Linked DNA regions of Homo sapiens: region 2 is linked to region 1. Evidence: fine-mapped expression QTL. A gene starts in region 1. The other region holds a variant in brackets. All regions are shown on one strand. Distances are between the middles of the regions.

Region 1 (14,397 bases):
TTTGGTTGACTCGAGTTTGATTCTTTATCCTCTCTTTTTTTGAGACGAGAGTTTTGCTCTTGTTGTCCAGGCTGTAGTACAATGGCATGATCTCCGCTCACCGCAACCTCTGTCTCCCAGGTTCAAGCGATTCTCCTGCCTCAGCCTCCCGAGTAGCTGGGATTCCAGGCACGCATCATCACACCCAGCTAATTTTGTATTTTTAGTAGAGACAGGTTTTCTCCATGATGGTCAGGCTGGTCTCGAACTCCTGACCTCAGGTGATCCGTCCACCTCGGCCTTCCAAAGTGCCGGGATTACAGGTGTGAGCCACCACACCCGGCCTGAATCTTTATCCTTTTTAGTGCCCAGTGGACTAGCATTTGGCTCTTTACTCTTTCAAGTGTTTACTGTCTCAGTGGAATTTTCCTCAGTTCAAATATTGGGCGCTGGGTACTGAGTACCAACCCATCAATTACGGTGGGTCACACAAGGTGCTGATGGGCACGGAAGTGCCTCCCACAGAGAGGAGTGTCCTGCCTTCTGTTGACTGCATTTACATGGCGTTAATAATGCATCTGCCATTTAAGTGGATCAGTAATGTCTATTAATGGGATATGTCCGTCATGGAAGGACCTCAGCAAAAGGAAAAGGGCGAGTTGCCTTGGGAGGCTCTTGGTGAAACTCTTCCCGTACCACCCCTGCCCACTCTTGTCTCTCTGGGCCACCCAGCTCCTCAGGACTCGGCAGGAAGGCTGGGTCTGCAGCTGGCCCCCTTATCGCGGAATGACCTTCTGTGCCCCAGGAGAGATTCAAATCTCCTCCTTCCAGGCCTTCCTGCTCCTTTGAGGTGGGAAATAGAATTCACCATAAGGAAGTAACATCTGAACCTCTACTCCAAGAACCATATGATTTTATGGGATTTGGGTTTTGTGTGGTTTTTTGGGTTTTGTTTGTTTGTTTTTTTGAGGCAGAGTTTTGCTCTTGTTGCCGAGGCTGGAGTGCAATGGCGTCATCTCAGCTCACCACAACCTCTGCCTCCTGGGTTCAAGCAATTCTCCTGCCTCAGCCTCCCGAGTAGCTGGGATTACAGGCATGTGCCACCACGTCCGGCTACTTTTTTGTATTTTTAGTAGAGATGGGGTTTCTCCATGTTGGTCAGGCTGGTCTCGAACTCCTGACCTCAGGTGATCCACCCACCTCGGCCTCCCAAAGTGCTGGGATTACAGGCGTGAGCCACCATGCCCGGCTGGGGTTTTTAAATGTTGTTTATTTTCTGTTTTGTTTCCTTTAATTTTGTGGGGAATGTTTTTTGGGTTTGTTGGAATCTCAGGCTAAGGGGGAGGTGTTATTTCACCCTCACCAGAGCTGGAGGGGAAGAGAGAACCCACGTGTCTTCAGAGGCTGCAGGGGTGACCAAGGGACACCTCCAAGCTGCTGCTGGGAACAGTGATGCTGTTGGCAACTCTCCTGCAGCTGACATTTTTCCTCTTGGAAGCACTTCATCCCATAGGGAAATGAGGAGTTTTCTTTTTCTTTTTTTTTAAAGTATCCCTCTGTGTCACCCAGGCTGAAGTGCAGTGCCATGATCTCAGCTCACTGCAGCCTCAATCTCCTGGGCTCAAGCAATCTTCCCACCTCAGCCTCCCAAGGAGCTGGGACCACAGGTACTTGCCACCATGCCCAGCTAATTTTTTAATGTTTTTTGTTTTGTTTTGTTTTTTTAGGTAGAAACAAGAGTCTCACTTCGTTGTCCACGCTGGTCTCTAACTCCTGGGGTCAAGTGATCCTCTCACCTCAGCCTCCCAAAGTGTTGGGATTGTAGGTGTGAGCCACTGGGCCTGGCCTCGTTTGTTGTTGAGTTTTTCTATTTGAGGAGTAATTCCCCTGTCTCTAAAGGCTCAGCCCATTGCACCATACATTCTCGCTTTTCATCTATAAAATGTGTAGAAGGAACAGATACTGGTGTGGGGAAAGCTTGGGATCAGAGGCAGGAGAGTCTGGTTTCCCCCAGGTGAGGCCCCCAGCACATTTCTTTGGAGGAGGGGAGGGCTCTGTCTGAGGCTCCCTCGTAGCTTTTACTGGATACATTTGGGAGTCCACCAGGATTTTATCAGAGACTGTCCCAGGTCTCAGAGCAGACCAGGATGTCCCAGAGTGGGTCCAGACCACAATAATAGACTTTAAAATGCTGGCAAGTCTTAGGAGCAAGGGAGATGATGTAAAAAGAAAATGGCAGGCTGGGTACAGTGGCTCACGCATATAGTCCCAATGTGTCTGGAACTGGTTCCTTCCGGTGGGTTCTTGGTCTCGCTGACTTCAAGCATGAAGCCATGGACCCTCGTGGTGAGTGTTACAGTTCTTAAAGATGGTGTGTCTGGAGTTTGTTCCTTCTGATGTTCTGATGTTCAGATGTGTCCAGAGTTTCTTCCTTCCAGTGGGTTCATGGTCTCGCTGACTTCAGGAGTGAAGCTTCAGACCTTCGCAGTGAGTGTTACAGCTTATCAAGGTAGTGTGGATCCAAAGAGTGAGCAGCAGCAAGATTTATTGTGAAGAGGGAAAGAACAAAACTTCCACAACGTGGAAGAGGACTCCAGCAGGTTGCCACTGCTGGCTTGGGTGGCCAGCTTTTATTCCATTATTTGGCCCCACCCACATCCTGCTGACTGGTCCATTTTATAGAGCGCTGATTGGTCCATTTTACAGAGCGCTGATTGGTCCATTTTACAGAGTGCTGGTTGGTGCGTTTACAATCTTTAGCTAGACATAGAATGCTGATTGGTGCGCTTTTACAGAGGGCTGATTGGTGTGTCTACAATCCTTTAGCTAGACACAAAGCACTGATTGGTGCATTTTTACACAGTGCTGATTGGTGCATTTACAATCCTTTAGCTAGACACAGAGTACTGATTGGTGCGTTTTTACAGAGTGCTGATTGGTGCATTTACAATCCTTTACCTAGACAGAAAAGCTCTCCAAGTCTTCACTCGACCCAGGAAGTCCAGCTGGCTTGATCTCTCACCAGCACTTTGGGAGGCCCAGGTGGGTGGATCACTTGAGGCCAGGAGTTCGAGACCAGCCTAACCAACATGGTGAAACTCCGTCTCTACTAAAAATACGAAAAAATTACACACAAAAAAATTACTCACCGCCGGGCATGGTGGTGTGTGCCTGTAGTCCCAGCTATTTGGGAGGCTGAGGCAGGAGAATCACTTGAGCCGGGGAGGCAGAGGTTGCAGTGAGCTGAGATTGCACCACTGCACTCCAGCCTCGGAGACAGAGCAAGACTCTGTCTTAAAAAAAAAAAACAAAAAAAAAAAAAACAGAGAAAATGTCCCTTTAGAAGTTCCTTTTTTTTTTTTTTTTTTTTTTTCTGAGACAGAGTTTCACTCTTGCTGCCCAGGCTGGAGTGTGCAATGGTGTGAACTCTGCTCATCACAACCTCTGCTTCCTGGGTTCAAGTGATTCTCCTGCCTCAGCCTCCCAAGTAGCTGGGATTACAGGCATGCGCCACCATGACGGGCTAATTTTGTATTTTTAGTAGAGACGGGGTTTCTCCATATTGTTCAGGCTGGTCTCGAACTCCTGACCTCAGGTGATCCGCCCACCTTGGCCTCCCAAAGTGCTGGGATTACAGGCGTGAGCCATCACGCCCGGACTTAGAAGTTCATTTTATAGTTCTCATCACTTCACTGCAGGTACCTTAAATCATCCAACTAGACCAGAGGTGTCCAATCTTTTGACTTCCCTGGGTCACATTGGAAAAAGAATTGTCTTGGGCCACACGTAAATACACTCACACTAACAATAGCTGATGAGCTAAAAAAAACAAAAAATTGCAAAAAAAACCTCACAACGTTTTAACAAAGTTTGTGAATTTGTGTTGAGCCACATTCAAAGCCGTCCTTGTGCCTAGGGTTGGACAAGCTTGAACTAGACAAAGGCTTGTAAATCAGACAACAACGGAACAACAGTCACTGCTCATCCCGTCCTTTATTTCAGGTGAACAGGAAGGGATTATACTCATTACAGGGAAGCGTGATGTGGACTCCTGTGAGGGAGGAGAAGGAGGGGGGCCGTGGTGAGGCAGTGAGGGGGTTGTGACTGCTCTGAACACCAGCCATTCGCCCTGGGCCCCTGGCTGGGGTGAGGGGAGTTTCTGGGGAGGCCTCAGGAAGCTTCCAATCATGGTGGAAGACAGAGGAGGAGCTGGCATGTCACAGGATGAGAGGCAGCAGGAGAGAGAGGAGGAGGTACCAGGTTCTTTTAAACAACTAGCTCTCGCGTGAACTACCAGAGTGAGAATTCACTCATTATCCGGGAGATAGTGCCAAGCCATTCATAAAGAAGCCACATCTATGACCCTACACCGCCCACTAGGCCCCCTCCAACATGGGAGGTCACATTTCAACATGCGATTTGGAGGAACACACATCCAAACTGTATCACTCGAAAGCAGCAGGCATTTTTCTCTCAGTTGGAGAATTCATCTTGGTTTTGGAAATGTCCCTGACTTGGAATTTTTTTTTTTTTTTTCGAGCCAGAGTCTCACTCTGTCGCCCAGGCTGGAGTGCAGTGGCACAGTCTCGGCTTACTGCAAGCTCCGCCTCCCGAGTTCAAGCGATTCTCCTGCCTCAGCCTCCCAAGTAGCTGGGACTATAGGCGCGTGCCACCAGGCCCGGCTAATTTTTGTATTTTTCATAGAGAGGGGGTTTCACCATGTTGGTCAGGCTGGTCTCAAACTTCTGACCTCGTGATCTGCCTGCCTCGGCCTCCTAAAGTGCTGGGATTACAGGCGTGAGCCACACTGCCCGGCCCTGACTTGGACTTTTAATAAGGCAGGTGTAAAAAGCAAAGTCCTCATCTCCCCACTGGGCACAATGGGTGTTTGGCATGTGCTTGTGAGGGTGGTGAGTTGGCCTCAGCCATGGGGAGATAGAATGCAGATACTGGGGGCCACAGCTTGTAAGTGTTTTCCACATTATTTGGACTGTGACCCACAGGAAGAAGTATATTCCACATCACAATGCCATATGTGGACACTTAAAACAAAAGTTTCACATAACACCAATACTTCCTTAAATACACTAATTTTCTTTCTTTCTTTCTTTCTTTCTTTCTTTCTTTCTTTCTTTCTTTCTTTCTTTCTTTCCTTCCTTCCTTCCTTCCTTCCTTCCTTCCTTCCTTCCTTCCTTTCTTTCTTTCTTTCTTTCTTTTTTCTTTTTCTTTCTCTCTCTCTCTCTCTTTCTCTCTTTCTTTCTTTCTTAGATGGAGTATCACTCTGTCACCCAGGCTGGAGTGCAGTGGCGCGATCTTGGCTCACTGCAAGCTCCACCTCCTGGGTTCAAGCGATTCTCCTGTCTCAGCCTCCTGAGTAGCTGGGACTATAGGCGTGTGCCACCAGGCCTGGCTAATTTTTGTATTTTTCATAGAGAGGGGGTTTCACCATGTTGGTTAGGCTGGTCTCAAACTTTTGACCTCGTGATCTACCTGCCTCGGCCTCCCAAACTGCTGGGATGACAGGTGTGAGCCACTGCATCCGGCAATATTTTCTATTTATTTGCGATAATTGCTCACTACAGTGTTGAACTCCCAGGCTCAAGAGATCCTCCTACCTCAGCCTCCTGAGCAGCTAGGACTACAGGTGTGCACCATCCCACCTGGTCAATTTTTTTTAAGAAGCAGGGTCTCTATCATACAGGCTGGAGTGCAGTGGTGCAATAATGGCTCACTGCAGCCTCAACCCACCTGGGCTCAGGTGATCCTCCTGCCTCAGCCTCCCAAGCAGCTGGGACCACAAGTGTGCACGACCACATCCAGCTAATTTTTTATTTTTTGTATAGAAGGGGTCTCCCTATGTTGCCCAGGCTGGTCTTGAACTCCTGGGCTCAAGCAATCCTCCTGCCTTGGCCTCCCAAGGTGCTAGGATTAAAGGCATGAGCCACTGTGCCTGACTTGGCTAGTTATATATATAGGTGTGTGTGTGTGTGTGTGTGTGTGTGTGTGTGTGTGTGTGTCTGTCTATATATATAGACAAAGTTTTGCTATGTTGCCCAGGCTGGTCTTGAACTCCTGGGCTCAAGCGGTTCTGCTGCTTCAGCCTCCCAAAGTGCTGGGATTACAGGCATGAGCGCCTGTGCCCAACCTATTTTTTTTAATGCTGGTTGTCGCCCAGTAATTTGATGTCATGCCTCACCAGTGGGTCTGGATCTAGTCTCTGAAGCTGTGCAGTAAGGGACCCCGTAAGGATGGGCCTGGTCCTGTCCCCGAGAGCCCTGTCCCCTCTAGATGCCCCTCATGTGGTCTCTAAAGCTTCAGGACAGTTCCGTCAGAAGTTGCAGCCTGGTCTTGGCTGTGCCGTGGGGAGTTCAGGAGGGGCTGCCTGTACTGGAGGGGAAGTCAGAGCAGAGCCCTTCTCTAAAGCCACAGTGGCAGTTAAGACAGGACATGGAGGGCAAGTGCCTGGCAGTTCAGCCTCTCCAGTAGCACACAAAGGTTTGATGAATCAAGAACAGCAGAGTGCCTGGGACTGGGGCTAGTGGTAGGCTCTGCTCTGGGGCCTCACTTACTCACCCCTTCCCTAATCACCCCAGAAAAATGAAGGTCCTGGTCTCTAAAGACCCCTTCAAAGAACAAACAGGCCCTGGAACAAAACCTGGAACTCCCTTGGGGAGTGGAGAGACTCAATGTGGCACCATCTCTGTGACACTCATGTTGTCCTGTGCTGGGGTTGATGGGCAAGCTCTTCTCCAGGGCAGATGCAATTCAGGCGACTCCTGTGAGACTCTGAAAGTCCACCTCCCCTCTATACCTTACCCTGGAGCAGCACTGTCAGGGTGACGGGCATCTTCTTAGGGGTGATGTCACTCGGTGGCGGCTGCTTTAGTGAGCATTGGAGTGCTGTGTTAGCAGGGGGCTGAGGAGGAGGCTGGCAGGAGAGCCAAGATGACTTCAGCCCCTAAAATTCGCAGTCATGACTGGGGCAGGGTGGAATCGAAATGCCCTCCCTGTTGAAAAAAAAAAAAATCAGGGCCAGGTTTGTCCACTCATTCAATAATATGTCTAGAACTATTATGTGGCAGGCACAGGGACATACAGAGATGTCCAAAGGCATGGTCCCTGCTCTCCGGGAGCTTCTGGTCTTAGCATGGGACACAGTCACTAAGTCAACGAGATCCTACTGGATAGTGACAGGTGCTCTAAGGGAATAAGATGAGATAATGGGATAGAAAGTGGCTGGGCTGGGACTGGGGGCTACTTTGGGTGGGCAATAATAACAGGCCTTTTTGAAGAAATGGCAGTTGAGTTGAAATGGATGAAAAGATGCAAAGATCCACGCTTTCCCAAATGACAGTTTGAGAGCAAAATACAGGTTCCCAGCCCCATCTTAGATTTCGTGAATGAAAATTTGAGGGGCAGGGCCTAGGAATTTGCCTTTTTTTCTTCCACATGATTCCCATGCACTTTGAAACTGGACACCTTCCTTGGGGCTTTTACTTTAGAATCACACTGATGAATTTCAGGGTACCTTCCAGTTCCCCGAGTCTGTGGCTTAGGGAAGGGAGCCTCTTTGTGTGTGAAAGCCAGGGGTAGGGAGAGGAGCAGGACTGCTTGTGGTCAGACTGCAGGATGCAGAAAATAAGCGTGCGCAGCTCCTCACCACACCGCGCTCACCCAGGGCCCTGCGTCTTTGGCTGTCAGGAGTTCTAAACCTGCCCCCCCGGAGGCCCTCCCTCATCCCACTCCCACTCCTGTTGAATTCCACATACTGAGAGGGTTGCAGTCATAGCTGCATGGATCAGTTCTATTTCTTGTGCGTTGGGAACCATTCCAAACAGTTGGTACATGCGCACTCTCCAGGCATATTTTTAGGATCCTAGGGTGGGTTGCCTGTGTCTCCCCGCCCCCACCCCGTCTGCCCCCCACCCCCGCACCATCCGCCCTGAGTGTGGGAGGGAGGTCTTCATGCTGCCGGCACTCGGGACCTGCCTGACCACCGACTCCGCCGGAGTGTGGGCTTTTAAACCTGCAGCAGCTGCTGCAGTAGAAACGCGCATTAGTCGCAGCAGACACAGGCAGCCTCAGGTGGGACAAGTCTTGTCTCTTCCAGCCTGTGGGGGAGCCACGGCTTCCCCCCCACAACCACCCCCTGCCCACGGAGCAAGAATGTATCTCCCTGGCAGGAGACCTGGCGCGAGGTGAATGGAGAAACCTGTTGTGTCCCCTTCCTTCCTCCCCTGGCCTCAGTTCCCCATCTATTCAATAGGAAGAACCCTTTGGGATTTCTTTGCGAGAGAAAGGGGAGTTTTGCTTTAAACGGAGCTCTTCCCGGCCGTGCGCGGTGGCTCACGCCTGTAATCCCAGCACTTTGGGAGGCCGAGGTGGGCGGATCACCTGAGGTCAGGAGTTCAAGACCAGCCTGGCCAACATGGTGAAACCCCGTCTCTACTAAAAATACAAAAATTATCACGCCTGTAGTCCCAGCTACTTGGGAGGCTGAGGCAGGAGAATCGCTTGAACCCGGGAGGCGGAGGTAGCAGTGAGCTGAGATCGCACCACTGCACTCCAGCCTCGGCGACAGAGCGAGGCTCCGTCTCAAAAATAAATGAATAAATAAATTTAAAATAAAATAAAAAGGAGCCCTTCCCCCTTTCACTTCCTCTCCTCCGCGATCGCTGCTTTCAGCTGGGCAACAGCACAGGGCGGTCCTGCGCATCCGGGGGGCTGCGCTCCCAGACCGGTGGCTGGGGAGTAGGTTGCAGGGGTGTCACTGTGTCAGGGGAGGAGGAGGAGGAGGAGGAAGAAGAGGTAGCGGCAAGGTCGCGGTCTGAGGTTCCGGTGCTCGCCGCCGCCCAGCTCCCAGCCGAGGCTTTCTCAACCGCGTCAATAAAAGGCCGCCCCGACCCGCCCCCGCGCCCCGCAGCCCTGCCGGACACCCCGGGCTGCAGCTGAGCGGGCGCAGACGGGCCGAGGCGGGCGCCGGGCGCGCAGGGACCGAGGGACCGAGTGCTCCCCATGAGCGCACGTGGGCCGGGCGGTCCGCAAGCCCGGCTGAGAGCGCGCCATGGGGCAGGCGGGCTGCAAGGGGCTCTGCCTGTCGCTGTTCGACTACAAGACCGAGAAGTATGTCATCGCCAAGAACAAGAAGGTGGGCCTGCTGTACCGGCTGCTGCAGGCCTCCATCCTGGCGTACCTGGTCGTGTAAGTTCTCCGCGGACTTTTGGGAAGGCGGGGGAGGGGCAGGGCGGGTGCCAGCCGCCGCGTCCTTCTCCAGGGTCCTGGAATTCGCAGGCGTGCACGCGGTTTTCCCGGTAGCTGGGGGTCTGTGAGCCTGCTTGCTGTGGGGGTCCTCTTTGGGTCCTTGGGTGTAGGAGTAGGGTGTAGAGAGGGGGCTCTCCACTCCCCCACTGGCGCTAGAGGTGATGAGAGGTGGGCAGGGGCCTTCTGGTTTCCTCGATTTATCAGGCTTTCCCTGCAGCTGCTTCTCCCAGAGTCGGGTCCCCACGTGTTAGGGCCATGGGAAGGGGGCAGGGATGCCAGGGGGCTGGGTGGCAGCTGTCGCCCCAGGAGCCTCCCTGGGCCTTGGCCTGGCAGCTGACCCAGGCGCCGGCAGGTTATTTATAATCACAGGGTGTCACTGCCTACTCAGAGCTGGAGAAACTCATCAGCCCGGCATGTTCCTGAGCTCCCTTCCGGTCAACTTGCCCCACCCGCGGCCAGCCTCTCTGGTGTCCAGCTGGGGGTCCTGCCCAGAGGCCTCTATCTCTGCACCCAGCTCGGCCATCCCCTTCCCCCATCCTCATGCCACCTGGCAGGAGCTGGCGCCACAAAGCCAAAGAGGCAACTTGTGGAGGCTGCTCTGCCAGGCGCCTTCAGAGCCCTGACCCCGGGGTGGGTCGGGGGTGAGCAGGTGGAGGGGAGAAGCAGCGCTGGACAATGGGGATGCGCCTCATTCCACTCGTTCAGTAAATGCGGTGGAGTTCCTCCTGCTTCCTCCTGGGAGGGCAGCCCTGACGCCTGGCTCTCCCTCGGAGGTCCAGCAGTCCGCGTTCTCTGAGCTGCATCCCCAGGCCCCTGGCCGCCTCCCACCTGAGCGGCCTCGTAGGCGCTGTGCTGTTGCTCAGCCAGGCCTGCCCGTCCTCCTCCACTCCCTTAGCATCCACTCAGCCCCCAGATCTGGGCTTTCCAGTAACTCCCTCTCCCTTCCTCCCTGGCCTTCCCACAGTGTAATTATTGGGCTTATTTGGGGGATCATTTGCCTGATGTCGCTGTCAGTCCGGGAATGCCCTGAGGGTGGGGCCCCAGCAGCACTTAACTGCTTAGGGAATAGATGTGAAATGAACGCATGAATGAATAAATGGAGTTGCTTTTGCTTGAACAATAGAAATTTAATTCTCGCAGTCCTGGATGTGGAAATCTGAGACGAGGGTGGTAGCATGGTTCGGGGTCTCAGGGGGGGCTCTCTCCTTGGCTTGCAGATGGCCACCCTCTCGCTGTGTCCTCACATGGCAGGGAAAGCAGGACATATTTAACTAAGTACAAGTATGAAAATTAGGAAATTGGCGGCCGGGCGCTGTGGCTCATGCCTATAATCCCAGCCCTTTGGGAAGCCGAGGTGGGTGGATCACCTGAGGTCAGGAGTTCGAGACCAGCCTGGCCAACATGGAGAAACCCTGTTTCTACTAAAAATACACAACAATTAGCTGGGCATGATAGTGGCGCCTGTAATCCCAGCTAATCGGGAGGCTGAGGCAGGAGAATCTGTCTCTATGGATTTGCCTATTCTGGGTATTTCGTATAAATGAAATTGTATAGTATGCGGCCTTTTTTTTTTTTTTTCTGGCTTCTTTCACTTGGTGTCATGTTTTCAAGGTTCACCCATGTTGTGGCATCTATCAGCCCTCCATTCCTCTCTGTGGCTGATACTATCCTGCCGTGTGGGGCTGCCACATTGTGGTCATGCATTCATCAGCTGATGGACATTTGGGTGGTTTTCACACCGCTGAGTGTAGTGGCTCATGCCTGTAACCCCAGCACTTTGGGAGAGGAGACCGCGGTGGCTGGATCACTTGAGGTCAGGAGTTCAAGGCTAGCCTGACCAACGTGGTAAAACCCCGTCTCTACTAAAAATTCAAAAATTGGCTGGGTGTGGTGGCGAGCGCATGTAATCTCAGCTACTCGCACCAGTGCACTCCAGCAGCCTGGGCAGCAGAGCAAGACTGTCTCAAAAAAAAAAAAAGAAGAAGAATGCTTCTGAGAACATTCATGTACAAGTTTTTTGTGAACATGTTTTCAATTTTTCAATTTTTAATTATTATTATTATTATTTTTGAGATGGAGTTTCGCTCTTGTTGCCCAGGCTGGAGTGCAATGGCATGATCTCAGCTCACTACAACCTCTGCCTCCTGGGTTCAAGAGATTCTCCTGCCTCAGCCTCTGGATTAACTGGGATTACAGGCATGGGCCACCATGCCTGGCTAATTTTTGTATTTTTTTAGTAGACACGGAGTTTCACCATGTTGGTCAGGCTGGCCTCGAACTCCTGACCTCAGGTGATCCACCTGCCTTGGCCTCCCAAAGTGCTGGGATGACAGGCGGGAGCCACTGTGCCTGGCCATGTTCTCAATCTCTTGGGAATTTTCTGGCTTATCTGGTAACTCGATCCTTAACCTTTTGAGGAACTGCTAAACTGTTTTCTACCATAACTACCTCATTTTACATCCCTATCAGTGATATACGGGGGTTCTAATTTCTTCACAACCTCATCAACACCTGTTATCTGTAGGGTTTTTAAAAAATGATAGCCATCCTAGTGGAAGTGAAGTGGTGTTTTATTGTGGTTTTGATTTGTATTTCCCTAATGACCAATGGTGTTTGTCATCTTTTCATATGCTTAATTGGGCATTTGTGTATCTCTCTCTCTCTTTTTTTTTTTTTTTTTTGAGAAATGTCTATTCAAATCCTTTGCTCATTTTTAAATTGGATTATTTGGCTTTTTATTGTTAAATTATAAGAGTTTTTTGTATCTTCTGGATACTAAACCCTTACCAGCTACATTATTTCAAATGTTTTCTCCCATTCTGTGGGTTGTCTTTTCACTTTCTTGAGAGTGTCTTTTGATGCATGAACATTTTAAATTTTTATGAAGTCCAACTTACCTATTTTTTCTTTTATTGCTTGCGTTTTTAGTGTCAACAAGTATGGGATTTGTACTCTTATTTCATTTTTTTGTTGTTGTTTTTGAGGCTGGGTCTCACCCTGTCACCTGGGCACAATCATGGCTCACTGCAGCCTCGACCTCCCAGGCTCGAGGGATCCTCCCACCTCAGCCTCCCGAGTAGCTGGGACGACAGGCTGGTGCCACCATGCCTAGATTACTTTTTTGTTTTTCATAGAGATGGGGTCTCACTGTGTTGCCCCGGCTGGTCTCAAACTCCTGGGCTCAAGCGATCCTCCTGCCTTGGTCTCCCAAAGTGCTAGGAGTACAGGCGCGAGCCACCGTGCCTGGCCTGTACTCTTATTTTGTAGAATGCCCCTCAGTTTGGGTTTGTTTGAGGTCTCCTCGTGATTGGTTTCAGGTTAGGCACCATCACAACCCCAGAGGGAGGCGCTGTCACCCCATGTTATGTATGGGAAATTGGCTTGCCTGGGGTCACCAAACCAGTATGTGGCTTCAGCCCAGGCTTGTCCACTTGGGGCCTCTGAGTGGACAGTGGTCTTTGCCTCTTTTATTTATTTATTTATTTATTTTTTGAGACAGAATCTCACTCTGTCGCCCAGGCTGGAGTGCAGTGGTGCGATCTCTGCTTACTGCAAGCTCTGCCTCCCGGGTTCACGCCATTCTCCTGCCTCAGCCTCCTGAGTAGCTGGGACTACAGGCGCCCACCACCACGCCTGGCTAATTTTTTGTATTTTTTTTTTTTTTTTTGAGTAGAGACAGGGTTTCACTGTGTTAGCCAGGATGGTCTCAATCTCCTGACCTTGCGATCTGCCTGCCTCGGATTATAGGCGTGAGCCACTGCGCCCGGCTGGTCTTTGCCTCTTCAGGGCCCCCATCTCTAGGGTTGCTTGTCGCCTCTGCTGCTTGCAGGACTGGGTTTCAGTCAGCAGTGGGAGCTGTGGCCCCTGCCCAGGAGCTGGTGGGACAGGTGGAGCCCTGAGCCTGCTCCACCTCAACTAGGAGTTGCTGTGACTGCTACCCCACCCCAAGGCCTGGGGAAGCTCCCCGAAGCCAGCAGAGTGGCTGATGCCCACGTACCGGCCCCCTTCCCACAGATGGGTGTTCCTGATAAAGAAGGGTTACCAAGACGTCGACACCTCCCTGCAGAGTGCTGTCATCACCAAAGTCAAGGGCGTGGCCTTCACCAACACCTCGGATCTTGGGCAGCGGATCTGGGATGTCGCCGACTACGTCATTCCAGCCCAGGTCTGAGTCCCCACCTAGCACACGGCCAAGGCTGGCAGGGACTGCCTGGTTCGGGTGGGTCACACGGGAAGCTTCTTGGATACGCAGGGACCCCCATCCATCATCTCTCTTGGCCCAAGACAGCTGCCAGGGCTTGCAGAGAGCAACCCTGTCCAGATCCTACCTCCCATGCCAAACCCCTGCCCTCTTTGACTGTGCCGCGGGTGACTGCTCTGTTCTATCTGAGTCTGCTGAGAACAAATGGGACCCAGAGAACTTTCAGGTCATTGTGAGTCAGGTGGGCTGGCACAGAGAACCCCCCTTCTAAGTCACTGCCTCTGGGAATAGCTCTCCAGCCTGTTCACAGTTGGCCAGGGCCAGGGCAGCCTGAGCCCTGCGCCCACTTCTCCCGGATCCTGGGGCAGTTGGGGTTTGTGAGTCTGGAGGAGATCTATCAATGGACATCTACCTGGGGACTGTGGGGTCCATGAGCAGATGGGCAGAGTATACCAAGTTTGTGGCCCCATTATCCCCAAAACCCAGGCAGAGGGACCGCCCTCTTTCAGGTAACGCTGGAAAGGTGGGGTGGTCCCTAAGGGGCAGGAGGAGGTTCCTCAGTGCCTCTCTGGTTCCTTAGGGAGAGAACGTCTTTTTTGTGGTCACCAACCTGATTGTGACCCCCAACCAGCGGCAGAACGTCTGTGCTGAGGTTTGATTTGGCGAGGGGCCCTGGCGTGGGGGTGGGAGAGCCACCGGCAGTGGTTGGGGTCTACTCTCTTCTGAAGCAAGGGTGTCTGTCCACTCCAAGGGTCTCGGGTGGCTGTGTGCACCCGGGTGTGGTTCCTGCATTATATGGGGGAGAAGTAGGTTCTCAGAGTGTGTGTGGGCCAGGCCGAAGAAGAACCCCTATTCTATCTCCTGGAGTGGGACCCGGCTCTGAGCTGGGGGAACCCCCCCATCCAGGTGCCCCTTCTCTCCTGGCAGAATGAAGGCATTCCTGATGGCGCGTGCTC
Region 2 (14,397 bases), 25 kb after region 1:
TGGAGGATGCAGGGTGGAGGACACTGGGTGGAGGACTCAGGGTGGAGGATGCAGGGTGGAGGATGCAGGGTGGAGGACGCTGGGTGGAGGATGCAGGGTGGAGGATGCAGGGTGGAGGACGCAGGGTGGAGGACACTGGGTGGAGGACGCAGGGTGGAGGATGCAGGGTGGAGGATGCAGGGTGGAGGACACTGGGTGGAGGATGCAGGGTGGAGGACACTGGGTGGAGGATGCAGGGTGGAGGACGCTGGGTGGAGGACGCAGGGTGGAGGATGCAGGGTGGAGGATGCAGGGTGGAGGACGCAGGGTGGAGGATGCAGGGTGGAGGACACCGGATGGAGGACTCAGGGTGGAGGATGCAGGGTGGAGGATGCAGGGTGGAGGACGCTGGGTGGAGGACGTAGGATGGAGGAAGCCAGGTGGAGGATGCAGGGTGGAGGATGTAGGGTGGAGGGAGCTGGGTGGAGGACTCAGGGTGGAGGACGCCACGTGGAGGAAGCAGGGTGGAGGACTCAGGGTGGAGAGAGCAGGGTGGAGGATGCAGGGTGGAGGGAGCCGCATGGAGGAAGCAGGGTGGAGGACACCGGCTGGAGGAAGCAGGGTGGCGGCCTGCAGGGCGAGGGATTCTTCAAGGCCCACTCCGCCCGTCTAGGAGGGGAGGCACCCTGCAGGGCCGTCCCAGGTGAACAGCTTGTATCTTGTCCAGGGGCCTAGAAGACAGTTCCCAGGAGGCCGAGGACGAGGCATCGGGGCTGGGGCTATCTGAGCAGCTCACATCTGGGCCAGGGCTGCTGGGGATGCCGGAGCAGCAGGAGCTGCAGGAGCCACCCGAGGCGAAGCGTGGAAGCAGCAGTCAGAAGGGGAACGGATCTGTGTGCCCACAGCTCCTGGAGCCCCACAGGTGAGGCCACTGCTAGGCAGAGAGCCCGACAGCTGGGTCCTGCAGAGAGGGGTCCCCAGTTGGGGCTTCTCATGCCTGGCAGCTCCAGCGGACCCCTCTGCTCTGGTGTGAGCTGGCCACAAGGCAGGACATCTAGGAACTGGGAGAGCCTCTGTGGGAAGGGGCTGGTGCTTTACCCCGCAAGGTCCCCCTTAGCTCCCGAGACCCTGGATGGCCATGGGTGCCTGCTGTGCCATGCCGGCGCTCAGATGATAACAGCGCGCTGCTCCACAGCACTGACTCTCTGCCTGGAACCCCTCTGTACTCTCCGTATTTGTTAACTCATGTAAGCAACTGAATCAGATAGACACCGATCTTCCCCATTTTACAAATGAGGAAGCTGAGGCACAGAAAGGCTCGGTAATTTGCTCAAGTCACACAGCCGGTGAATGGCAGCGCTGAGATTTGAATCCCGGCAGTGTCTGTAGGATGAGGTTCTCCTGAGTTACTCTGCCTTTGCCGAACGTCTCTGTGCTCAGATGACCCCCCCTCAGCCCCTCTTCTGTGTGCGATTCTGGGGCTGCCCCGGCCTCAGGAGGGTGCTGGCCGTGCTGCCAGGGGGGTCCTTGGGCCGCGATTCCTGGGGGCGCTGGCTTCTCTGCAGACGAGGCTCAGCCTGCGTGGGGAGGGCGTCTGGCTGGGTGGGGGACCTGTCTCGGGCCTGCTCTGCGTCTGCCTTGCAGAGTACCTGTGCGGTGAGCAGGTGCCTGGCCCTTTCTGTGCCTTGTTTTCCCTTTTTTCCCCTCCCAGTGGGGGCTGGACACCTCCTGCTGTCAGACTGGGGTTCTGTGACTCTCTTGCAAACCACACCCCAGGTACTCACTGACCTTGGTGGCCTTTCTCCTGGCCCAGCTTTCATTCCTTGCTGACTCAGGAATTGGCAGCGTTCAGCTGGGAGCTGGGCCTGGGCAGGGAAGGAGCAAGAAATAGACTGGGCTGGAGAAGAGTGAGGAGAGAGAGAGGCAGGGGCTGCAGCAGTGGGGCAAGGAGGCTGGAGGCTAGGGGTCCGTATGGGGTAGACCCAGAGCCTGGCAGCCCTCCTGTGCTCCCTGAGCTGACTCTTACTTCCTGGGTGCTCACTTGAGCTCCCATTCTGAGCAAGCGGGAAGCCCGACGGCCTGGCTTGTCTTGGCTGAGCCTCGCTGAGGCTTGTGGGAGGCTGTGGACTCACAGGCCCACGCTCCAGCTGCCACCGCAATTGCTGCTACTCCTTGCCGGGGCAACTCCAGAGGCTTCTGCCTGAGCATCTATGCGTGCTGGGCTTCCGCAGGAACCCTGGCAGGCTGTGCTCTCTCTGAATGCTCTGCCTGCCTGCAGTGCTGCCAGGAGCGTTGCTGCCTCTGGTGAGGCTGGCCCACCCACCGGCTCCCGACAGTCCTCTCTGCCCTGTGCGCCCCCTCCCGCCCACACACAGGTCTGGCCATTTGCAGAATGCACAGGTGAATTTGGAGCAGCTGCAGACAGTGGAGATGTAGCCAGGGCTGCTGGCTACCAGCAGTGTCGCTGAAAACTTTGGGGCCAGAACAACCCGCAGCTCTGAACTGGGTAGAGGAGTCTGTGCCTGCATGAGACAGGGGCTTCCAGGCACAGCCATCTCTCCTGAACTTTGGGATCTTGCTGCAAGCTTTTTGCTGAGTGAGGAGGGGAGCCTCCCAATGGTCAGAGGGGCTCGGACCTAGAAGAGGAGTCCCTGGAGCAGGTGTCCAGGGAAAGGGACAGGCCAGGGTGCTGAGCGGAAGTGGAGTGTTTGGATTTTCCCTCAACCTGGCTGCACCTTCACTCATTCATATGAGCTGTAAACATGTATTGACGCATGCTGTGTGCTGGGCCCACCAAGAGGTGCTTAAATGAGATGCTGACCTAACCTCAGGGAGAGGGGCCCGCGTGTAATTCCTCCAAAGCCAACAGAGACATCACAGCCAGGCCCAGCCACTCCAGCTGGCCTTCCTCTAGCCTCTAGCAGGGTTTCCGAAATCCCTGCCGAGAATGATGGTTGCTCAGAGAAAGCTCTTGGACAACACCCAAGGGGACATTTGGGCTTGCCCCAAGGATAAAATTTAAAGGTGGCCATGGAGGCAACCAGGAAAGGACTGGAGCAGTCAGGAGGCAGCTGGCTCTTAGTGGGGAAGCCAGCTCCTGGGGAGTCTAGGTAAGATGGGGAAGGGGAGGCAAGAGGCCTCTGCTCCATCTGACTCCACCAGCCTCGGGACGCCCGGGGAATATGGACCTGCCCAGATGGGAGATACAGTCGCCTTGACCCTGCCGAGCTCCTGCCCTCCCCACCCCTCCTCAGAGGCTGGGCCTGAAGTGCTAATGAGATCAAGGATGGCGCCACTCAGCAGGTGTAAACGGGCTGAGTTAGGGAGGCCCTCATTCCCCTCCCTCCGTCCCCACCTGTCTTATGCCACGGCCACACCCACCTACCGCACCCTCAGCTGCTCTCTGCCTCCATCGCTGTAGGGCCTTGCTTTTTATTTATTTATTTTTTTGAAATAGAGTCTCGCTCTGTCACCCAGGCTGGAGTGCAGTGGCGTGATCTTGGCTTACTGGAACCTCCGCCTCCCAGGTTCAATCGATTCTCCTGTCTCAGCCTCCTAAGTAGCTGGGATTACAGGTGCCCACCACCATGCCCGGCTAATTTTTGTAGTTTTAGCAGAGATGGGGTTTCACCATGTTGGCCAGGCTGGTCTCCAACTCCTGACTTCAGGTGATCCGCCAGCCTTGGCCTCCCAAAGTGCTGGGATTACATGCGTGAGCCACCAAACCCGGCCAAGCCTTGCTATTTAAAGTGGGGTCCAGGGACCGGAGCCTGCTAGAAATGCAGGTCCCAGCTCCCCCGCCCCCCACCCAAATCAGAACCTGTGTTTCAACAAGATTCCAAGGTGATCTGTGTGCACAGTGACATTTAAGAAGCCCTGGTTCTCAGGGGAAAAAGGCCAGCTTTGGTGGATGGAGCCAATTTCTAGGTCAGACTTACACGCATGCTGCCTAGAGACCAAGAGGCTTCCTCCCCCACCCTGAAAGCAGCAGTATGCTCAGCTGATTTAAGTTACAATATTTTGACTGGGTAATACTTACATGATTCAAAGTTTAGAAGGTGCAAAGGATAGTCAGTGAAAAGCAACCTCCGTCCTCCCGGTTCCCCAGAGGCAGCCAGTGTTACTAATGCAGGAGGCTCCCTGATTTTGCCGAAAACTCGTGTGGTTTCTTACACATTCACTCAGGTAATGAACTTCTCCTGACGCTGGCGCTTAAGACCCAGTCTCCCCTGTCAAAAATGGACATGAAGTACGTTTCGATGTTGGGCTTGGGAGCTGACTAGCTCTCTTCTCCTACCCCGTTGTATGTGAGTTGTCTCCCCGTAAACCCAAGGTGAGAAACCTGGAGCTCAGCCCTCGCCATTGCCCGAGCCACCTGGCAGAAAAGTGCTCCAGCGCCGCCCTCACTCAACCAGTCCCAGTGCTGTCTGGGCGGCTCCCTGGAAGCATCCTCTTTGGAGGGGTTCTCTCTGCACACAGAAAGGCGGGGGTGGTGAGAGCATCCCTCCACTGAGGCTTTGGAGAGGGATGTCAGGGGCCCAGGGACATGGTCTCCAGAACAGGAACCCTCCTAGAGCAAAGCAACTTCCTCGCTTTGGGTTTTCTGGGAAGGGAACCTGCAACAAGCCTATACTGCTCTCTGATTAGAAAGTAAAGATCCAGGCTGGGCGCAGTGGCTCACACCTGTAATCCCAGCACTTTGGGAGGCCGAGGCGGGTGGATCACGAGGTCAGGAGTTCGAGACCAGCCTGGCCAATATGGCAAAACCCCATCTCTACTAAAAATACAAAAATTAGCCGGGCATGGTGTCCACATGCCTGTAGTCCCAGCTACTCGGGAGGCGGAGGCAGGAGAATCGCTTGAACCTGGGAGGCAGAGGTTGCAGTGAGCTGAGATCATACCACTGCACTCTGGCCTGGGCGACAGTGAGACTCAGTCTCAAAAAAAAAAAAAGAAAGTGAAGATCCAGGTGATCCACTTAGGTGTGTCACTTCTTCACTGACGCAAAGCCTTGCATTTTTATAACTTGGTGACTTTTAGGTTTGGGAGGAAGCAAAAAAGGCAGGGGTCATGGCTGCTGATTTTAACCAGACTTCGAAATGGCTGGCAGAAGCCACAGAACCTGAGGATAGTCATACTATTTGTTTCATATTGCAACAAAAATGTCTTCCTAGCCGGGCACGGTGGCTCACGCCTGTAATCCTAGCACTTTGGGAGGCCGAGGCGGGCAGATTGCCTGAGTTCAGGAGTTTGAGAACAGCCTGGGCAACATGGTGAAACCCTGTCTCTACTAAAATACAAAAAAATAGCTGGGCGTGGCGGCGTGCACTTGTAGTCCCAGCTACTCAGGAGGCTGAGGCAGGAGAATTGCTTGAACCCGGGAGACGGAGGTTGCAGTGATCCAAGATCGTGCCACTGCACTCCAGCCTGGGCGACGGAGCGAGACTCCGTCTCTAGAAAAAGGAAAATGTCTTCCTACAGTTAGTCATTCCTTCAGCCAGGAAATATTTATGGAGTCCCTGTGACATGTCAGGTGTTGGACCAGATGCTGCTGAGACAGAGATGAGCAACACAGACACGATCCCTGCCCCCGAGGGTTTCCAGTCTAATGGGGCATTGAACCCTTACCAAATGATCACACCCGTCATCACAGACGGAATGGGGTGTCGGAGAGGTCAGCGAGTAGTAGCCAGAGAAGGTTTCCCCAAGGAAGTGACCTATGAGTTGAAATCTGAAAGGTTATAGCAGCCTAACTAGGTGAGGGGGAAGCATTCCAGGTAAGAGAAGCACAGGTGTGAAGAGACGCTTTGATATGGGAAGGAGCAACGGAGAACCTGGGTGAAGGCGGCAGACAGGAGCCAGGTTTGGTGAGGCTTTTGTTTAATGAAGTTGACGGTCTTTAGCTGCAAGGTTGCCCCTTTAGACTTTGCTTCCTTAGAGGATTTAACCTCATTGTTTCTTCAAGGCCGGCCAAGCCTTCCAGTGACCTCTTGACTGCCCATCAGGGGCCCCGTGCTCAGAAGAGCCAGGGATCGCCTGACAGCTTCCAGACAGTGTCACACTCTTCCAGTTTCCTTGCTTTTTGCACAGCCCCCAGCTCCCACCATTTTTCTGCATAATCTTGGTGCAAGAGTGGGAGCTCATTACTCTGATGGAAACTGGCTTTTTTTTTTGTATTTTTTTTTTTTAATTTTTTGAGACGGAGTCTCGCTTTATCGCCCAGGCTGGATGGGAGTGCCGTGGCGCGATCTCGGCTCACTGCAAGCTCCGCCTCCCGGGTTCACGCCATTCCCCTGCCTGAGCCTCCCGAGTAGCTGGGACTACAGGCGCTCGCCTCGCCCGGCTAATTTTTTGTATTTTTAGTAGAGACGGGGTTTCACTGTGTTAATCAGGATGGTCTCGATCTCCTGACCTCGTGATCCGCCCACCTCGGCCTCCCAAAGTGCTGCGATTACAGGCATGGGCATGAGCCACCGCGCCTGGCCGGAAACTGGCTTTTAAATGGGGAGAAGTGAAGCATGAACTGTAGCTCTTTTCAGACTTGGGAAGGCCCTTCTCCCTGGGCACTGGTTGCCTCACTGGGAAGATGAGAGTGCCAGCCTCTCAAGAGCTCCTTTCTGTTCTGATATTCCAGGAGCACGTGAATTGCCTCTGCTTAC[G/A]TTCAGGCCCTGTCCTAAACCCAGCCGTCTAGCACCCAGTGATCCCATGCCTTTGGGAATCCCAGGATGCTGCCCAACGGGAAATTTGTACATTGGGTGCTATCAATGCCACATCACAGGGACCAGCCATCACAGAGCAAAGTGACCTCCACGTCTGATGCTGGGGTCATCAGGACGGACCCATCATGGCTGTCTTTTTGCCCCACCCCCTGCCGTCAGTTCTTCCTTTCTCCGTGGCTGGCTTCCCGCACTAGGGAACGGGTTGTAAATGGGGAACATGACTTCCTTCCGGAGTCCTTGAGCACCTCAGCTAAGGACCGCAGTGCCCTGTAGAGTTCCTAGATTACCTCACTGGGAATAGCATTGTGCGTGTCCGGAAAAGGGCTCCATTTGGTTCCAGCCCACTCCCCTCTGCAAGTGCCGCAGCTTCCCTCAGAGCATACTCTCCAGTGGATCCAAGTACTCTCTCTCCTAAAGACACCACCTTCCTGCCAGCTGTTTGCCCTTAGGCCAGTACACAGAATTAAAGTGGGGGAGATGGCAGACGCTTTCTGGGACCTGCCCAAGATATGTATTCTCTGACACTCTTATTTGGTCATAAAACAATAAATGGTGTCAATTTCAAACGTGTCCTGATTTTTTTCTCTTCATGTTTACCCATCTTTTTTTTTGAGATGGAGTCTCGCTCTGTAGCCCAGGCTGGAGTGCAGTGGCACGACCTCGGCTCATTGCAGCTTCTGCCTCCCAGGCTCAAGTGATTCTTCTGCCTCAGCCTCCTGAGTAGCGGGGATTACAGGCGTGCACCACCATGCACGGCTAATTTTTTTTGTATTTTTAGTAGAGACGGGGTTTCACCATGTTGGTCAGGCTGGTCTTGAACTCCTGACCTTGTGATCCGCCCACCTCAGCCTCCCAAAGTACTGGGATTACAGGCAACAGCCACCGCACCTGGCCCATTTTTACCCGTATTTTAAAGGAAAATGTAAGAAGGCAAGATCAAAAGAGGCAGACACAAGAAACAATTAGTAAGCAATATATTCCTCATCTTGCAAAGAAATTCAAATTATGGAAATGCTTTAAATGAGCAACTATTAAAATTATAGACTAGGAAGGAACTGATAAAACTGGTACTTTTCATTCAAGTAGTGTAATCTAACACAACTCTGGAAGTAACTTGGAACCAAATTTTTATCCTCTGCTGTAGGAACTTATTAATTTTCTCAAAACAATATAAACGCAGACATTCATTGCAGTATTTTTTATAGTAGTGAACATTTCAAACTTACTGCCCAACAATAGGGAAATGGTTAAGTACATCAGCTCGCTTATCCCTCTTCCTTTTTTCTCCTCTCCCACCAGGCTGAGGACTCCCTCTGCTTCTCCCTTACACCAGGAATGAACCTTTCCTTCCCACTCAGAGGAGGTTCTGAGAGGACTGAGGTGGGCAAACCACTGAGGATCTTCAGTGGGGGCAGAGAAAGGGCTCACTGAGATGGGGGGCAACGCTATGGCCTCAGCTTCTCCTTGGCGTCGTGTGCATGTGTTCCTGAAGCCGAAACGGAATTTAACAGGTCTGGGTCCCAGATCCATTTCCATGACTGGCCATGGGCTATCTATGATCTGTCAAAAGGGGACTTGGATTCAAGCTCTCAGATCCCCTTCCAATCTAAAACAGATTCTTTTTTTAAAAAAAATCCAAATGTGATTACGTCACTTCAGACTAAAAACTTCCAAAGGCTTCCCCCATTTGCTCTGAGGATCAAGGCCAGGGCAAATGGGAGCTCACTGCAGCCTCAACCTCCTGGGCTCAAGTGATCTTGATCTTCCCATTCCAGCCTCCTGAGTAGCTGGACTACAGGCGCATGTCCCCACACCCATTACTGCCCTCCATGATCTGGTCTGGGTCTACCCTGTGGCCTCTTCTCTCACTCTCTAAATACAGTCACATTCCTTCCTGCCCAATGGCCTGGAAACATGCGCTTTCCTGAAGGTAACTCCTTCCCCACACTTGCCTATGTTATTCAACTTTTGGGTTTCAGATGTAATGTTATTTCCTCAGAGAAGACTTCCTTGACCTCCATATACCCCAACTTGGGCTAGGTCTGCTATGTCCTCTTCATAGTACTCACCATGATTTAAGTATTTCTGAAGTTAGGTGATGCTGGTTTCCCCAGTTAACCATAAATCCAATGAGCACCATCATTTTCATTACTGTAATTTCTTTTTTTTTTAGACAGGGTCTCGCTGTTGCCTAGGTTGGAGTGTAGTGGCAAAATCGTGGCTTACTGTGGCCTCAACCTCCCGGGCCCAGGTGATCCTGATCCTCCCACCTCAGCCTCCTGAGTAGCTGGGACTACAGGCACATGCCACCACATCTGGCTAATTAAATGTTTTTTTGTAGAGATGGGCATCTCACTATGTTGCCCAGGCTGGTCTTGATCTCCTGGGCTCAAGCCTTGGCCTCCCAAAGTGCTGAGATCACAGCAGGAGCCACTACACTCAGGCAATTACCGTCATTCTAATGCAATATTTATTCCTCAATTAAACAAATGCATTTTATTCTTTTTTTTTTGAGAGGGAGTTTCGCTCTTGTTGCCCAGGCCGGAGTGCAATGGCATGATCTCGGCTCACCGCAACCTCTGCCTCCCAGGTTCAAGAGATTCTCCTGCCTCAGCCTTCCTAGTAGCTGGGATTACAGGCCTGTGCCACCACACCCGGCTAATTTTGTATTTTTAGTAGAGATGGGGTTTCTCCATGTTGGTCAGGCTGGTCTCGAACTCCTGACCTCAGGTGATCTGCCCACCTCGGCCTCCCAAAGTGCTGGGATTACAGGCATGAGCCACCGTGCTCGGCCACAAATGCGTTTTATTCTAAAATAACCCTCCTGACAAGAAAGGATCATGGATTAACACATGGAGGTGTTTACACCCTAAACCTGCCCAAAGTTCAACTTCAATGTCCAAACAATTTTTGTGTTTTTTTTGAGATGGAATCTTGCTGTCACCCAGGCTGGAGTGCAGTGGTATGATCTTGGCTCACTGCAACCTCCACCTCCAGGGTTCAAGCGATTCTCCTACCTCAGCCACCCAAGTAGCTGGGATTACAGGTGCCCACCACCACGCCTGGCTAATTTTTGCATCTTATTTTTAGTAGAGATGGGGTTTCGCCATGTTGGCCAGGCTTGTCTCAAACTCCTGACCTCAGGTGATCTGCCTGCCGTCGGACTCCCAAAGTGCTAGGATTACAGGCGTGAGCCACTGTGCCCAGCCTAAATGTCCAAACAATGTTTAATCTTCCCTAGACATATTCTAAAAAATACAGCTTGACTTTATTTTTTCTTATGGAAAGGACTGTCACTAAATGAAATGGAACTAAAATGACACCATATATACCTGAAAGTAGTGGTTAGTGGGAGGGAACGCTGGCCTGTGAAAGGTACACCCAGCAAACATATCAAGAGCAAATTAAGAGACCTGCATTTGAATCCTGGCTCTGTCTCTTCCTAGCTGTATCTCCTCTGGGAGAAGTATTTAACCTCTCTGAGCCTCAGGTTCCTTACGAGGGAGCTAACAATAACATCTACCCTGTAAGGTTATTGCTAAAATTAAATGAGAGGATCGGTGTAGAGTAGAAGTCACAATGCCAGCATATAGGGAACTCTTTTTTTTTTTTTTTTCCCTGAGAGACAGACGGAGTCTTGCTCCATCACCCAGGCTGGAATGCAGTGGCACGATCTCGGCTCGCTGCAACCTCTGCCTCCAGGGTTCAAGCGATTCTCTTTCCTCAGCCTCCCGAGTACCTGGCATTGCAGGCGCGCGCCACCACACCCGGCTAATATTTATATTTTTAGTAGAGACGGAGTTTTGCCATGTTGGCCAGGTTGGTCTTGAACTCCTGACCTCAGGTGATCCGCCCACCTCGGCCTCCCAAAGTGCTGGGATTACAGACATGAGCCACCGTGCCCGGCCCAGGGAGCTCTTAATACATATTAACTGTTACTGCTTCTTAGGATGTTAATAAGTTCTTTCCTTATGTAGGCCCTTAGGGCCCGTTTCTGAATGGCCTATGTGTAAATACAAGGACTTAACACAAGGCTATGGCCCATTCCTTGCTCTCCAGGAGTCAAATCTCGGCGATTTTGCATCAGTGGCAGCCTAAGCGTTACAGCAGGAAAGAACTCCACAAAGTGTCTCACGCTTCATTTAATCTGAAGAATATTACAGGCTCTCCGTCTTCAGATATAAATTATTTATAACGTTACAGAACAAGCAGCGAATTCAACCACTTAAGAACTAAGGAAGTCTACATGGTGTTAATTGCTGGCCACAGTCCTCCCGATCTGGTTTTTTAAAAAAGTCCCCCGGGCCCCCATTTCAGTAGACGTGCACCATGCCGTAGAGGAACGTCCAGAACAGGACGTAGGTGAAGAGGCCCCCGATGAGGCCTCCTGTAAAGAGAGGTCTCCGTGATTTGAAATATTTGTTCCACCTCCTTCCCGCCTTGAGAATGAGGAGCAGGGAGAGCAGGACGGAGGCGAGCAGGTAGAAGATGAAGCCGTAGAGGCCGGTGAGGCCGAGGATGCCGGCCGTGGCCCCCGACAGCGCTGACACCGAGGTCCGGCAATAATCCAGGACGGCGGCGTTGCCCCGCACGGCCGCCTCGCTGATGAACGGCGGCCCTTCCCGCTTGGCCACCACCGCGGCCATCGCACCAGCCCGGGCTCGGCCTCTCGCTTTCTCGCGGAACAACGCGGAGCTGCGGAGAAAACCAAGTTACAAGTGGCGCCCGGAGCTCGGTGAGTTGGGTTCACGCCGCCCCCTCCCCCTGGAGCTTCCGAGACCTGGCACCAGTCCTGGGCCTCGGATCTTCCAAAGACGCCGAGGAGATTGAGGGTCCGGGCCGGCCGGGAGGTGGTGGCGCGTCTGCGTTCCCCGGCCACGGTGGCCCAGTTACCTGGAACACGGCGCCGGACACACTACTTAGCGTTCCCTCAGACGGGCAGTGGAAGAAATGCCCGCGGCGCCATCTTGCTCGGAAGACTGCCGGGAGGTCTCGGGCTGCGCACGCGCCCAGATCCCGCCCCGCCCTCCGCGCCTGCGCCGTGGGCGCCCCGGACACGCTCCGCCCTCTGCCCGCTTTTCTGCGCACGCGCAGGGACTTCCGAAAGCGGAGTGGCGCTCCGGCCAGTGATTGGCTGGAGGTTTGTTAACTATTCATGAGGGGGCGGGCCGAGCGGGGCGGCCTTTGTTAAGCAGCGAGGGCGCGACCGCGGGTACTCTGCTGCCGGCTTCTCGGAGCGGCGCTGGGCGACCAGAGCAGGGTCGAGATGTCCTACATCCCGGGCCAGCCGGTCACCGCCGTGGTGGTGAGTGCGCTTGCGCGGGCTCCTCCTCGTCTTGGCCTGACCCCACCTCGCAGAGCGGGAAACGGACACCCCAAGCAGGTTGACAGAGCATCGAACCCGGGGCTCCTGCGAACCGGCGGCAAGGGCTCGGGTCCCCGCTTTGCCGGAGCGGGCCGCAGTTCCCCCAGCCACGAAACAGGGATGGCCGGGACCCGAGAGCCTCCCGAGACCCTGGACAGAGCCCAGACTGCGTGCGCAGGGCGGGGAGGGCCACGGGGAAAGGCCTGGCTGCAGGAGCCTGGAAAAGCGCCCCCTTCCCGGGCCTCCGTGTCCCCAGACGGGGAGCTGCTGGGGGCGGGCGCCGATCCCGACGTCCATGAGTCGCAGCCTCTGGAATGAGGAAATGCTTCCTCCGCTGCAGCCTGCGCCGCCGCCCGGAGGGAGATCTGGGGGTGGGGCTCTCCCGAGCCTGCCGTGGCAGCCCCTGCCCCCTTCCTGTCCAGCCTTGCTCCTCCAACCCACTCGCCGCCTGGTCCAGGGTGGACGCTCGTATAGCTGCGATGAGCGTTTCCTCTTCGAACTTTTCCTGGGTCTCCAGCCCTTAAGGCAAAAAAGTCCAGGCCTCCCTCCTGGCACTTGAGTCCTGAGTAGACCCTCCGGGGGCTAGCCTAGGCCCCTGGCCGCCCTCTGGCTTGTTTTAGGTGCTGGGTGCTATTAGACTAGGCAGAGGGAGGAAGGAAGGCTGGGACGTTAGACTCAGACGCCGGTGTCACAGAGGGACACAACCCTATGACAGAGGTGGGGAGTCCCAGAGAGAAGTGCTCAGCCAGAAAAGACCACCTCAGGAAAGACTCAGGTCTCCTGCCTACCTCCCGACAGCGTTCAGAGAATGAGAAGAAATGCCTGCCCGGTGGGCAGTAGGTCAAGCGAAAGTCCCCGCCCTGGAGCCATAGGGACTGGGTGTGTTATCTCAGTTGGGTGTGCTGGAGAAGCTCCAGCAATCAGGTGGGTGGAGGCAGAGAAGCCACTGATAAAGGCGACAAGTGAGGCTGAGCTTAGAGCACTGGCTCAGGCCTGGGCCAGGAGGAAACATTGCTGGACCAGCTGACAGCTGTCCTAAGCTTCACCCTCCCTGCACCAGCTTGACTTTTTTTTTTTTTTTTTTTTTGAGACAGTCTTGCTCTGTCGCCCAGGCTGGAGTACAGTGGCGCGATCTCGGTTCATTGCAACCTCCGCCTCCTGGGTTCAAGCGATTCTCCTGCCTCAGCCTCCCGAGTAGCTGGGATTACAGGCATGCACCAGCATGCCCAGCTAATTTTTGTATTTTTAGTAGAACGGGGTTTCACCATGTTGGCCAGGCTTGTCTTGAACTCCTGACCTCTGGTGATCCACCTGCCTCAGCCTCCCAAAGTGCTGGGATTACAGGCGTGAGGCACCACACCCGGCCCAGCCTGGCTTTTTTAGATCCCTACCTGCCCCAGAGAGAAGGCACCAGGTTTGCTCTTTAGGTAGAAGGGGGGCAGGGACAGGTGAGGAGCTACAGCAAGCCACCTTCTGCGTGACCTCACCCAGCAAATCAGTGACAGCCCTGTCTCCCAACCCAAGGGCCTGTAATCTTCTGACCGTGCCGGCAGAGCAGGCCTGGAGGAGCTCAGTTTGGGGCATGAGGACCCAGGCACAGTAGGCCTCATGCTTCCTGCCCCCCTCCCTCACGCCATAACTGGTCCCAGGGCCTTCCCCAAAACTGCAGGCCCATGCCCCCTAATTCTGGTAACACCAGGAACGTGCCTGGACATGGTGTGTATGGTCTGGCCTCTCCCTCGAGTCTTGGATTGGGGATGGGTTTGGGCAGGCTCACTCCCCAGTCCCCACCCTCTCCCATGTAGAATCCTGAGAATATTAAAGACATTTAGGCCATTCTTCTGAACCCTGGCTCCATAGATCCATCTGCCTTCTGGACACCTGCCCCGCAGCTCCTGGCACTCCAACCTAACCTGCTCCTCCTCCTCCTGGGTCCCCATCTGAATAATGTGTGTTCAGCCAGGCACGGTGGCTGGGTGCTCCTCTTGACTCCTCTCCTCCATGAGTGGTCCCTAAGTCTGTAGATCTCCATTTTCAGGTAGCTCCATGTCCCCCGGCCTCTGCACCTTGCTTTTGTGAGATGTCCGTTCCTCTACTGATTACCTGAGTGGTCATTCTAGCAGCAAACCTGACCATGCCCTACCCTACTCCGTTCCTGAGAACTCCAGTGGGTTCAGGATCAAGGTCAGGCTACCCATCACCCCCTCAAAGCCTGGTGCAAATAATCCTCCCTTTGGGAAACTTCTTTAGGTCTAGTCTAGATTGTGGTCTTCTGCTTTTTTCTTTTCTCCTTCCTGTTAAAACTTGACTTTGGGAGTGATCTGGTCTGGCTCC

The links. PIP is the estimated chance that this variant, and not a neighbour inherited with it, causes the effect.
Region 2: its variant is fine-mapped to the expression of P2RX5-TAX1BP3 in whole blood (INTERVAL, PIP 0.95).

Annotation. Positions count from the first base shown.
Region 1 is chr17:3,690,652-3,705,048 of GRCh38, reverse strand. P2RX5-TAX1BP3 (P2RX5-TAX1BP3 readthrough (NMD candidate)) reads left to right here and starts at 8,645. Exons shown (of 15, transcript NR_037928.1): 1 at 8,645-9,180; 2 at 13,255-13,405; 3 at 14,022-14,093; 4 at 14,369-14,397. P2RX5 (purinergic receptor P2X 5) reads left to right here and starts at 8,894. Exons shown (of 12, transcript NM_002561.4): 1 at 8,894-9,180; 2 at 13,255-13,405; 3 at 14,022-14,093; 4 at 14,369-14,397. The coding sequence starts at 9,044. RefSeq lists silencers at 2,587-2,787, 8,665-9,024 and enhancers at 9,145-9,194, 9,307-9,823, 10,794-10,843, 11,244-11,293.
Region 2 is chr17:3,666,094-3,680,490 of GRCh38, reverse strand. P2RX5 (purinergic receptor P2X 5) reads left to right here. Exons shown (of 12, transcript NM_002561.4): 11 at 707-901; 12 at 6,614-7,264. The coding sequence ends at 6,623. P2RX5-TAX1BP3 (P2RX5-TAX1BP3 readthrough (NMD candidate)) reads left to right here. Exons shown (of 15, transcript NR_037928.1): 11 at 707-901; 12 at 7,998-11,433. TAX1BP3 (Tax1 binding protein 3) reads left to right here and starts at 11,913. Exons shown (of 4, transcript NM_014604.4): 1 at 11,913-12,003. The coding sequence starts at 11,965. EMC6 (ER membrane protein complex subunit 6) reads right to left here and starts at 11,679. Exons shown (of 2, transcript NM_031298.4): 1 at 11,592-11,679; 2 at 10,826-11,393. The coding sequence starts at 11,344. The coding sequence ends at 11,012. RefSeq lists enhancers at 10,463-10,993, 10,994-11,524, 12,057-12,587, 12,588-13,119 and a silencer at 11,626-11,965. The variant G/A (reference allele first, on the strand shown) is at 6,639.